2 separate regions of the Homo sapiens genome follow, and region 1 is linked to region 2. Evidence: fine-mapped QTL for protein levels in blood plasma. A gene starts in region 2. The other region holds a variant in brackets. All regions are shown on one strand. Distances are from middle to middle.

Region 1 (5,368 bases), 330 kb after region 2:
CCACCCCACTTCACACTGCCTCCCCCAGCCAATAAACAACTTAAGTAAAACTAGATGTTTGTTATGGAAATACAGCACACACACACACACACACACACACACACACACACACACACACACACGGGGACAGAGAAAGAAAGAAAACAAATGTGGCAAAATGTTAACATTTAGGGGATCTAAGTAAAGGTATATGGAAATTCTTTGTACTATTCTTGCAACTTTTCTGTAAATCTGAAAATCATTTCAAAATAAAAAAGTAAAAACAAAACCAAAGCAACAATGAAAAATCTTGAGGCTTCCATCTATACTTCATATGCTATTAAATAAACACAAATGTCCATACTCTTTTACTCCTTTTTAAATAAATCACCACTAACAACATCGTTTTCTGATAGGCAAGTTACAAAACCATCACCTGTGTTATCATCTTCTGTTAGGTCAACATTCTTAACCTGTCTTCCTGAAGCCATGTCTTGTTACAACAAGCAAACTTATGTGTTTTCCAAGTCTCTGTTGGTGATACATTAACAAATCACTTCTTTAGGTAGGAACCTTCTGCAGATGGTCTAAGTTCATTCATTATGTTGACTTTTCTTAGTGACTTTTAGAGAATGACCTTCTGACTTTGTCTAAAATTTGAGAATCATCTCAGAGTAGGACCATATTATATGCTGACAATGCAGGCCTGAAAGTTTGAATGTCTTCTCTAAATTGAACAAAAACCCATAAATTACCAGATCCCAAAATACCACCTACATCAAGCTTTTACCTACAGGTGGTACAACCAAAGGAATGATTATTGATATCTCCTGCATGACACACACAACTTGTTGAAAGAATTTCTGGGAAGAAAGGATGATGCCTTAGAGATAAAAAATATATACATATGCTCTAGAAGATCAGCTCACAGAGCAACCAAATGCATCTGTGGTCCCTGCTTCCCACTTCTCTGCAGACCCATCAAGAACACAGCAACTTCTAAATTCTTCCAACAGAAGCAGTAGTTCATATTTATGTAGATTTTAGAAGACAAAACTCTTTCAAACACATTATTAACTCTGATTGTCTGAACAGCTCTGTGTCTTGCTTTCTCCACCTGAAAAGTAGGTTCACATCTGCTGTTCATACAGTCCCAAAATACTAGGAAGATGAACACAACAATTAGGGGTGGGGTAAATTGAAAAATTGGGTTGGAGGAGACAGAGCAATCTTTGCATGTTTTCTCAGTGCCTAAGACTTCAAGAAGCCCATAAACACCCCACAAAAAGTATGAAAGATTTGTCATTGCCAATCCCCAAATCCCAACCAAAAAGAAGAAAAAGTTGAGACCTAAGGACTGGAGGAAGTTATTTTGTAAGTGAGAAACCAAATCTAGTAATAGCCATTAGAAGACAAAGTATGTGTTAGCCTCTAATTAATGGGTAGTGGACACAGGCCAAGGGATTAAAAAACAAATGAAACACAGTTGCATACGAAAAATTACACAAAACATACAGATACATCCATAGTGTGGTTTGGACACTGCCACCTCTGGCCTGGTCTTGCTCAAGTTCAGGCTCTTCTACCAAACTCCACATCCTGATTCTGTCTGTCCTCGATCAGATCCACACTGGCCTGCTCAATTCCAGGCATCAAACCTCCTATCCCAGCTTCAGATAGAGCTCAATTTCTTTATCTACAAATTCTCACCTTTCCGTTTTGAAACACACAAAAATCTCTCGGCCTCAAGTACACAGTCTTCATCAACTTCCTGCTGATGATCAAGTACTTTCTGCTGTAAAAATTTATCAGCTGCAAGAATTGCTGGAGATGGAACCCTCCCCAAGTCAAACACACTCAGCAGAATGCCAGATGCTCACTAAGGCCTCTAGAGCTACGGATGGAGGGTTTAGCTCTTCCTGGGTTTGGATAGGGAAAGTCGAGTCCTTCATGCTGAGGCTGGATGAAGTCCCTAATCCTCACCCTTCTTTTCCCCAGGTTGCGTCCTGTCTTTCCTATGTCTGGGATTAAAACCCATCTACTTAGGCCAGGCGCAGTGGCTCGTGCCTGTAATCCCAGCACTTTGAGAGGCCGAGGCTGGCAGATCACCAGAGGTCAAGAGTTTTAGACCAGCCTGGCCAACATGGCAAAACCCTGTCTCTACTAAAAATACAAAAAAAATTAGCCGGGCGTGGTGGTGCACGCCTGTAGTCCCAGCTACTCGGGAGGCTGAAGCAGGAGAATCGCTCGAACCTGAAAGGCAGAGGTTGCAGTGAACTCAGATCATGCCACTCCAGTCTAGGCCACAGGGAGAGACTCCATCTCAAAACAAAACAAAAACAACAACAAAAAAGGCATACCATCCACTTGCTAAGTGATTGTCTTGTTGGACCTTTGAGATTTCATATGTTACTTACTCATACCTGTGGGTTACACTCACTCAACAAAATGTGTCAGTTCAGCCCTGGGGCTGAAAACGCAGAGGCCAGCCATGAGCGAGAAAGAGTTTCTGCTGACAGGGAGCAAATCTGGTCTCAGAAGTCAGCACTTTAATAGCATTAGGAGCCATATTATATATTAGCATATGGTAAGTATCAGCTCAGATAATGTTAACTAACCTTCTACACACACCTAACCCAGGTAGCTCTTTTAAAAAACGAACAAAAACCGGGCGCGGTGGCTCACGCCTGTAATCCCAGCACTTTGGGAGGCCGAGGCGGGCGGATCACGAGGTCAGGAGATCGAGACCATCCTGGCTAACACAGTGAAACCCCGTCTCTACTAAAAAATACAAAAAAGTAGCCGGGCGTGGTGGCGGGCGCCTGTAGTCCCAGCTACGCGGGAGGCTGAGGCAGGAGAATGGCGTGAACC[C/G]GGGAGGCGGAGCTTGCAGTAAGCCGAGATCGCGCCACTGCACTCCAGCCTGGGCGACAGAGCGAGACTCCGTCTCAAAAAAAAAAAAAAAAAAAAAAAAAACGAACAAAAAATGTAAGCATCTGCAAAGCCAAGGTCACTGTACTAAAAATGAAGGCGTAAGGAGTTGTGAGACGTCCTCCCTAAGCTGCAGTGGAAGGCAGCCCCCAGGAGCAAGAGCCTTTAAACCCTCTTCCAGGAGATCACACATCCTGGTGTGAACAATACCTAACTATTTATGGAAAGCTGTGATCCAGGAGTATCCCCTTCTTGGAGTTAGAAGAGGGCTGTGCCAATGGGGCATTCCTCCTGGCAGAGTTCCAGACACTGTCAAACCCACGTGGAGGAAAACGGCCAAGCTGAACTATCCTGAAACTCTCCAAATCCTACCACACGGCATGCACCTGTTGTGCAGTTCTGCGAGGCGAGGTTTCCTCCCAAGCATGCAAAGGCCGTGCTGGGCCTGCTCAAAACAGCCAGATGCCCAGCTTCTGGTAAGCAGGAAAGTCGAAGGATGAGCTGGTGCTGTGGTGGTGGGAGGTTCCTGCACTCCTGGGAGCAGCCCTGGGAAGTGTCTCGTGTGTCTAAGGACTGTCCTGTAGGTGCTTGTGCTTTCACACCGTGCTGGGCCGGGTGGTTGCAGTGTGAGCACTGTCCTTCTCCGGCTGCGTGCTTGCTTGCTCTAGGCAGCACCTCACATCCTTCCAGACCATAGGAGTCTCCGTGTCAGGTGCCACACCCACCATTTTTCTTTTCTCTACTCCTCTCCCCAGTAAAAGAGGCAACTGATGTCAGCCCCAGGCGCTGCTGCTGCCACCATGTCCACCAGGTTGCCATGCTCCCTGGCTGCCAGCCTGATGCCCTGCCAAGGTTCCTGGTGCCCACCGCGGAATGGACGGGGTGTAGGCTGAGGGCAGGTCTGCATGGACACTGGGTGATACACACCAAGCTGTGGTCAGTACAGCCCAGGCCCCCACAGGGCCTGTTGTCACCAACCCAGGCTGTTTCCCCTCATCTCTCTTTCCCTAAGAGGAGTTTTTGCCCAGGAATTTCCCTGGGCCCTCAGTGAGCTTGCCTTGTTGGACTCCAGACCTAGGCAGACATCGCCTCCTGAGCAAAACAGCCCCGGCTGAAAGCCCCCACGTGGAACCCACACACAATGGTTTATGCTGGTGCCCTTGGCTGGAAGCTGCAGGGTCCAGCTTTGAGCAATGGGAACAGAACACCAGGGCACCACATCTGAGAGTGTCAGGGCAAAGACCCCTCAGCCAGATGGACTTCATGTTCCTGCCAGAGAATTCGTAGCCCGGATTATTCTCTGGAAGACAGTGTCACAGCCAAAACTGAACACCAAGCTTGTTTCCCACTGTGTCAGAGCCTGGGTGTGCTCTACCCCAGCCAAGCTCAGAGCTCTGCAAATGAGAAGCGAGGTGAGCAAATGAGTGGAGACTTCGAAGCTTTCATCCTGTAACAAAGGGCAACCGCCTCCCTGTGCCATGACGCAGGTGGCAGGAGACCCGGGATGAGTGAAGGTGCAGGATGACGGCGGGATGGGGTCTGCTTCGGGAAGTGCCGCCAAGGCAACCCCTGAGCCCTGCCTGGGTTGATGAGGCAGGCTGAGCTGCCTAGAGTCCTCTCTTAGGGGACCTCCTTGGCCCTAGGCTGAAGCAGAGGGCGCACAGCCAGAGTTCCCAGTCAGAACGGGGCCTGTTAGAGACGTTCAGGAGGGCGCCAGGCTCGTTAGCATGATTCTTTTTCCTTTAGAAAAACAGACTCTCCTGGAACAACTAGGCCAACTCCAGCTCCTGCCCCACCCACCTGAGTCTGGCCAGGCAGCCCGAGCCCAGCGCCCAGAGCTCTCCTTGACCATGACCTCATCCCCAAACCCTCCAGGCTGGGTCCCTGCCCTCCACCGCATGAGGCAGGGAAAGAAAGGAGAAGGGAAGGTCCCAGTTCAAATATCAGGGTGCCTGTCCTCTCCCCAAGACAACCTCCCTGTGCCACCCCTAGGGAGGGTCTCCCATGTCATGGACAGCCGCACAGCTCTGCTGAGCTGCCCCCCACAGCAGTGGGCCCAGCCCTGGGCCTGGGGGACATTTTCATAATACTGACGCCCAGCCATCCTGCCCTCACCTCGGGAATCCTCACCTCCAATTGGAGGGGAGGTGAAGCAGAAGGCACGGATCTTTTTAGAAGTTCCTCAGATGGCTTTTAAAAGTTCCTGCATCTTGTCATCAGGGGCCTCTGCACTCTGCGGTATAAATTATGGGGACAGGGAAGACACACCCCTGCCCTCACTGAACTCCCAGCCACTCTGGTGGTTCCTGTTCACACAACCTCACATATATGAGGCCTCCTCAGAAGGCTCTAGGGCAATGAGGAAGACAGGGCTGGGGGTCAGCCCTGGTGAAGGGGTAGAGAGTGACCCAGGCTGGGTGTGGTCTGGAACTGATGGCCAAGAAGGTGTAACCCTTGAGGT
Region 2 (5,304 bases):
ACTGCTGTCCATCATGTCCAAGCACCGTCTTGCCTCACTGGGATTGTAAGAGCCTGCTTACCCGTGTCTCCTCTGATCAGAATTCTCCAGTGTTGCCCTTCACCTCTCAGATTGAAAGCCTAAACCCTTCCTGCAGCCTGTAAAGTCCTCAGTGCTGCCTCCCCTTCTCTGCTTTTAACTTAACTCCTGCTATTCATCTGCTTTCAGTCACTGCTAATCCCCGGGGTCTACAGCAGTGCTGGGGACAGAGTAGATCACAATAAGTATTTGCTGAATGAATGAATGAATGGCAATTAACCTCAGCATTTCCTGGATATTACTGTGTTTGGTTCTGTGATGGCCTCTTTTGGGTGACAGATGAGCAATAAAGATAAGTCTTGGTTCTTGTCCTCTTAAGAACAGGGGGGAGTGCACTAGTCAAGACTCATTGGTTATAGAAAATAGAAATCTCATTCCAAGTTAGCAAAAGGGAATGTGCTGTCCCCAGAACCAGCGTTCAGAAAGCGCAGGGGTGAGGTGGAGCCCGGGACTCTTGCATCTGCCCGGCTCTTTTCTACCCACCTGGCCGCTCTCCATGCGTGGCTTCCTTCTCTCCAGCTGGTGTCCCTGGAGGCTGCAGCCAGAGCCACAGGCCCATCCTGGCTACTGCACTGGTGTTCGGTGGCCGCTGTAAGAAGTAATTACAAACGGGGTGGGTGGCTTAAACAACAGAAATCTGCTCTCTCAGTCTTGGAGGCCAGAAGTCTGAAATCAGTTCCACTGGCCTGAAGTCCAGCACAGGCTCTGGAGGAGCCTCTTCCAGCCTCTGGTGAGGGCTGCCAGCATCCCTGGGCTGTGGGTGCATCGTTCCCATGGCTGCCTCCGTCCTCACCTGGATTTCTCTTGTGTGCGTCAATCTCCCTCTCCTCTGTTTTATAAGTTACATACATGACTGCATTAGGGCCCACCCAGATAATCCACGATAATCTCTCTGTCTCAGCATGCTTAATTGCTTTTTAATAAACCATGTAAGGTGACATTCACAGGGTCAGGGACTAGGACAGGAATGTCTTTTTGGGGAGGAAGGCTGTGTTTCAGCCTGCCATGGCTACCATCCTTCCAAATCCACGAATGATGGGAGAAAGAGACCTTTCCACCAGCCCGTGTTAGAAGAGTCCCAACTCTGAGTGACCCTGTCTAGGCCACTGCAGAGCCCTGAGCCAGTGGGGAAGTGGGGCTTTGGGAAGGAGTGGGAGTAAGGAGGGGGCCTGTCACTTGGTTGGAGTTGGGGAGGGAGCTACCATTCCCCCAAAATAGGCAGAGCCGGGTGGCTGCTGGTGAGACAGAAACCACACAGCTCCATTAAATGGCATGTGGGGAAACATGATAACATAAGGGAGTAATGCAGGAAAGTGTGTTTGGGCTGGGCGTGGTGGCTCACGCCTGTAATCCCAGCACTTTGGGAGGCCAAGGTGGGCGGATTGCTTGAGCTCAGGAGTTGGAGACCAGCCTGGGCAACGTGGGGAAACCCTGTCTCTACAAAACATACAAAAATGAGCTGGGCATGGTGGCTGAAACCTGTAGTCCCAGCCACTTAGGAGGCTGAGGCAGGAGAATGGCTTGAGCCTGGGATATGGTGGTTGCAGTGAGCCAAGACTGCACCACTGCACTCCAGCCTGGGCGGCAGAGGCAGAGGGAGACCCTGTCTCAAAACAAAAAGAAAAAGAAAAACAAACAAACAAAAACCTTTGCTGGGAAGCAGGAGAGTTTCCTGGAAAGGAAGGCGGTAGGTTTACACCTTTCCTGGGTGCTCAAATTCAAAGAGATACTGTATTTCTGGTTTTCATCTCTTTGCAATTCATTTACCTTTTTTTTTTCCTCTCTGCAGAACACAAATCCGGTCAAGTTTTGGGTTGTCATGAGGGAGAACTGACATAGCGCTGGGCGGTGAGTTCAGCCAGGTTATCTCTGCGAGGACACCGGTCGGCGGCGGACAGCAGCACGCGGCGTCCAGGACCCGGCCTTCCTAGAGCTTAGGTCACTGTAGCCTCCAGGGGCGCTCCGAGTCCATCTGGAGGGCCGCGAGGCTTCCAGGCTGGAAGGAGGAATAGGGAGAAGGAGGAATAGGGAGACCTGGGGCAGTGTTACAATTACAGAAAAGGGAGAGGCGAGGTCCGCTGAGTCCTTGGCCTGGGCAACAAGGCACACTGAAAACTGGGTTCCTTTTCGACCCGCATCGTGCGCGCCCTAGAAATGACAGCCAGACGGAGCAGGGTCTAAGGACGCTGAAAACCCCTGACGTGGGCGCGCCGGGTGCGGGTAGGGACGTGGAAGGACTGGGCTAGCCACAGGAACTACAGCGCTGCGGACCGGGTGAGGGGTCCCGGCCCGAGTCCCCACTTGGGGCGCAGAGGTGTTTCTGTAAGGGGACAAAGGGCACTCCTCGGCGCGATGGGCGACTTCCCCAGCCAGAAAATGAGAGGGTTAGACGAGGGGAGGAACTTCCTCAGCCACTTGGCCCGGCACAGCGACCGCCCCAAGTTCAGAACCGCTAAGTCAGTCCGGGGCGCTCCGGCCCCTTCGTCCCGCGCCCCGCCCGCCTCCAGCCCGGGCCCCGCCGCCCCCGTCGCCCCTGTCGCCCGGGTCGCCCCCGCCGGCCCTGGCCCCGGCCCCGCACACCGGCAGGGGGCGCCCGAGCGCAGCTAAAAGGCTCGGCGGGAGGTCGGCGGCCTCAGTGGCGGAGCGCGGCTGCCGGTGTGCGGCCGGGAGCGATCGCCGCGGGGCAGGGGCGCGGCGGGCACCGCGCAGAGCGCGCAGAACAGACGGACGGCGGCGGGGACCCGACGGCGGCGCCTCGGCACTCCCCAGACTCCGGCCAGCGCCCCCCTGCCAGCCGCAAGCACCCAGCCCCGGCCCACCCCGGGCTCTCGATGGCCCCCGAGGCCGGGGCGACCCTGCGCGCGCCGCGCCGGCTGTCCTGGGCGGCGCTGCTGCTCTTGGCCGCGCTGCTCCCCGTCGCCTCCTCGGCGGCGGCCTCAGGTACGCGCCGCGCCCGGGCCCCCGGCGCTCCTCAGCTCCCCGCGCACCCTCCTGCGCTCGGGCCCCGTCGTCCCGCTCAGTGCTGGCTACGGGTCGTGTCACTAGCCTGTGCGTCCTCGTCACTCGCGGGTCGGGGCACTTGGCGCCCTGTGTGGGTGGCGGGAGCGGGGACGCCTCGGTGCCCGGGGACCGCAGCGCGCTGGCGTTTAACTTTGCCGTCGCCCGCCTTGGAGTCGGGAGGCTCCAGCCGTCTAAGTGTCCCGGGAGATTCAGGCACAGCGGGGAAAAAAGGAAAAGAAAGGCGACTTTCAGCGTGCGGACTGGGGTAATGCCTTTCTTTGCCCAGAATTTCTCGGGAGCGTAGGTGGTCATCCTACTTTCTCCGCGTTCACCTCTCGCGAGGCAGGATGACGGGCGCACTCGGGAGACCGGAGGGAGGCAGAGCAGGGCTGTTCTAGAAGGTCGTGGGGGAAAGGCTGCGAGCTGCCGCAGGGCGTCGGGTGCCTCTGCGCTCCAGAGGAGAAGCGCTCCAGTGCCAGCTCGGCTCCAGGCGGCAGGAGGCCCGCGCGCCCGGGGGGAACGTTCAAGCTGGGAGAAAATGTTTGTCTTGAGAGGAGGGAGAGGGAAATGAGAAAGCTGATTCCAGAGAAACTCGCCCTTCCCCAATGGCTGAGGCTGCAGCCAGGATGGATGCTTCCTTTGAGAGCAATGCTTTTCAGAAAATGCTAGCGCGCTCCTGTCAGATTTCTTGCAAGCTTCCTGCAGAGAGAGACAAGTTTGTGGCGAGGTTTTCATTCCTAAGCCTTTGGCGGCCCTTGTTACCACCTCCTTTGCAGGCATTTTTACACTTGAAACTGGCTTTTAGGTTATTGGTTTGTAGAAATCCAAGAAGCAGACAATGATCGTCAGATACTATTCCAACGAGGGTACCAGTTTTATGATGCTATTTAGTGTATATATTGTTCTCTTACTTCAGGGGTAAAGGAAGAAAAGTTGGGGATCACATTACTTTGTGACTTTTTGGTAGATACATCATCCCAATGCTTGGCTCAGGTTTATGCGAGGTATTCTGATGCCAATGCCACTTTCTCATAAAAGGCAGTGCCTGCCGTAGGGTCTTTTTCTTCCCATTAGTGAACTCTAGGAAAGTATTCACTGAATACTTTGCACAGTACTTGAGAGGAATAAAACTAAATAAAGTCTTCCAACTTCCCCACCTACAACTCCTGGCTTTTGTTTTTCTAAGTGAAAATTTTCAGAGTGCTGGAAGAGTTTTTGTTTCTGAAAATGATCTGAAACTGGAACCAGTGCTGCCCTGGCTTTGTGGCGATTCCAGCCTTCTGCTTTTCCGATTCCTCTGCCACCTGCCCGTGGGTTGCATGTGAGTGGGTCCGAGCGGGGTTGTTTGTGAGAGCTCCTGGAATCCCACCGCGATCTGCACTCTTGCTTTTTCGCCTTCTGCTCTGTGAATCACTGTGCTGAGGAATGCTGGGGCTGGACAGCTTCCCAGCCCTTCTCTCTACTGTGTTGACGTGGGATCTACAGTCAAATGATGACCAGACTAGAGGTGGACAAAGGAGGACAGGCACATTTCAGAATGAAATCTACTAAATTTAAATTAAGTAATAGAAGGATAGAAACAGACATAGCAACCTGTAGATAGCTCCCCATGCTGTGGATGAAATTATGGGGTACATAACTTCTTTCATGGGCTCCCTTTGACAGCAACGTCATGGATAGACTGCTCCCTCTCTCTGGTTGAACTAATGCATGGACCAAGCGAGCTGCTTGTGTCAAGCTCTCCCCTTCACCACCCTTTTGGGGCCAGAATCTCTGTAAGGAAATTACCCACGGCCACATAATAGTGGCTCCGAGGGACTTTGCTTAAAGCAGGACACACTGAAGATCTGGATAAGCCCTTCAGTGTAGGGTCAATTAAACATAAAACAAAATAAGCAAGCAGTGTCCCCTCCTCCACTCATATTCATCCCTACAATAGGATACTATGCAAACATTAAAATTATGATGGCCTTGCCAGTCTGGTATGATACATTTTTCTAAACACATGTGGATGTACTCACACATGCACATATTTGCAGTGGGTATCTTAGGATGGTTAGGGATGATTTTTATTTTCTTCTTTAAAGAAGCTTTTAGGGAATTTTCCATGTCAAAACTATTTTCAAAGTAATACTAAGATTACTAAGATGCTATTTTCCTTTTTCACAGTTGACATTTGCACTGAGGGTGCAAAAGCTTGATGGGTAAACTGCGGGTGTCTTACTG

Direction of the effects. Positions count from the first base shown, and alleles are read on the strand shown. Strength reflects both the effect of a copy and how common the allele is.
As copies of C replace G in region 1, the plasma level of the protein whose gene starts at base 2,713 in region 2 goes up (weak association).

Evidence for each region. A credible set is the group of variants that fine-mapping cannot tell apart. PIP is the posterior inclusion probability: the model's chance that the variant is causal. Protein levels are from antibody-based Olink assays in UK Biobank. Linkage for the fine-mapping came from a reference panel and not from the study's own genotypes, which makes the PIPs less certain.
Region 1: its variant is the best candidate, but not a certain one, in a credible set for the plasma level of the FNDC1 protein (UK Biobank, PIP 0.85).

What each region holds. Positions count from the first base shown.
Region 1 is chr6:159,501,072-159,506,439 of GRCh38, forward strand. No RefSeq gene overlaps it. Among named protein-coding and RNA genes, the nearest start is that of LINC02529, 120 kb to the left of the region's middle. The variant C/G (reference allele first, on the strand shown) is at 2,851.
Region 2 is chr6:159,166,688-159,171,991 of GRCh38, forward strand. It overlaps FNDC1 (fibronectin type III domain containing 1), which reads left to right and starts at 2,713. Exons shown (of 23, transcript NM_032532.3): 1 at 2,713-3,018. The coding sequence starts at 2,910. FNDC1-AS1 (FNDC1 antisense RNA 1) reads right to left here and starts at 3,320. Exons shown (of 4, transcript NR_121668.1): 1 at 3,125-3,320; 2 at 1,846-2,074; 3 at 562-667. RefSeq lists a silencer at 2,592-2,761 and an enhancer at 3,568-4,067.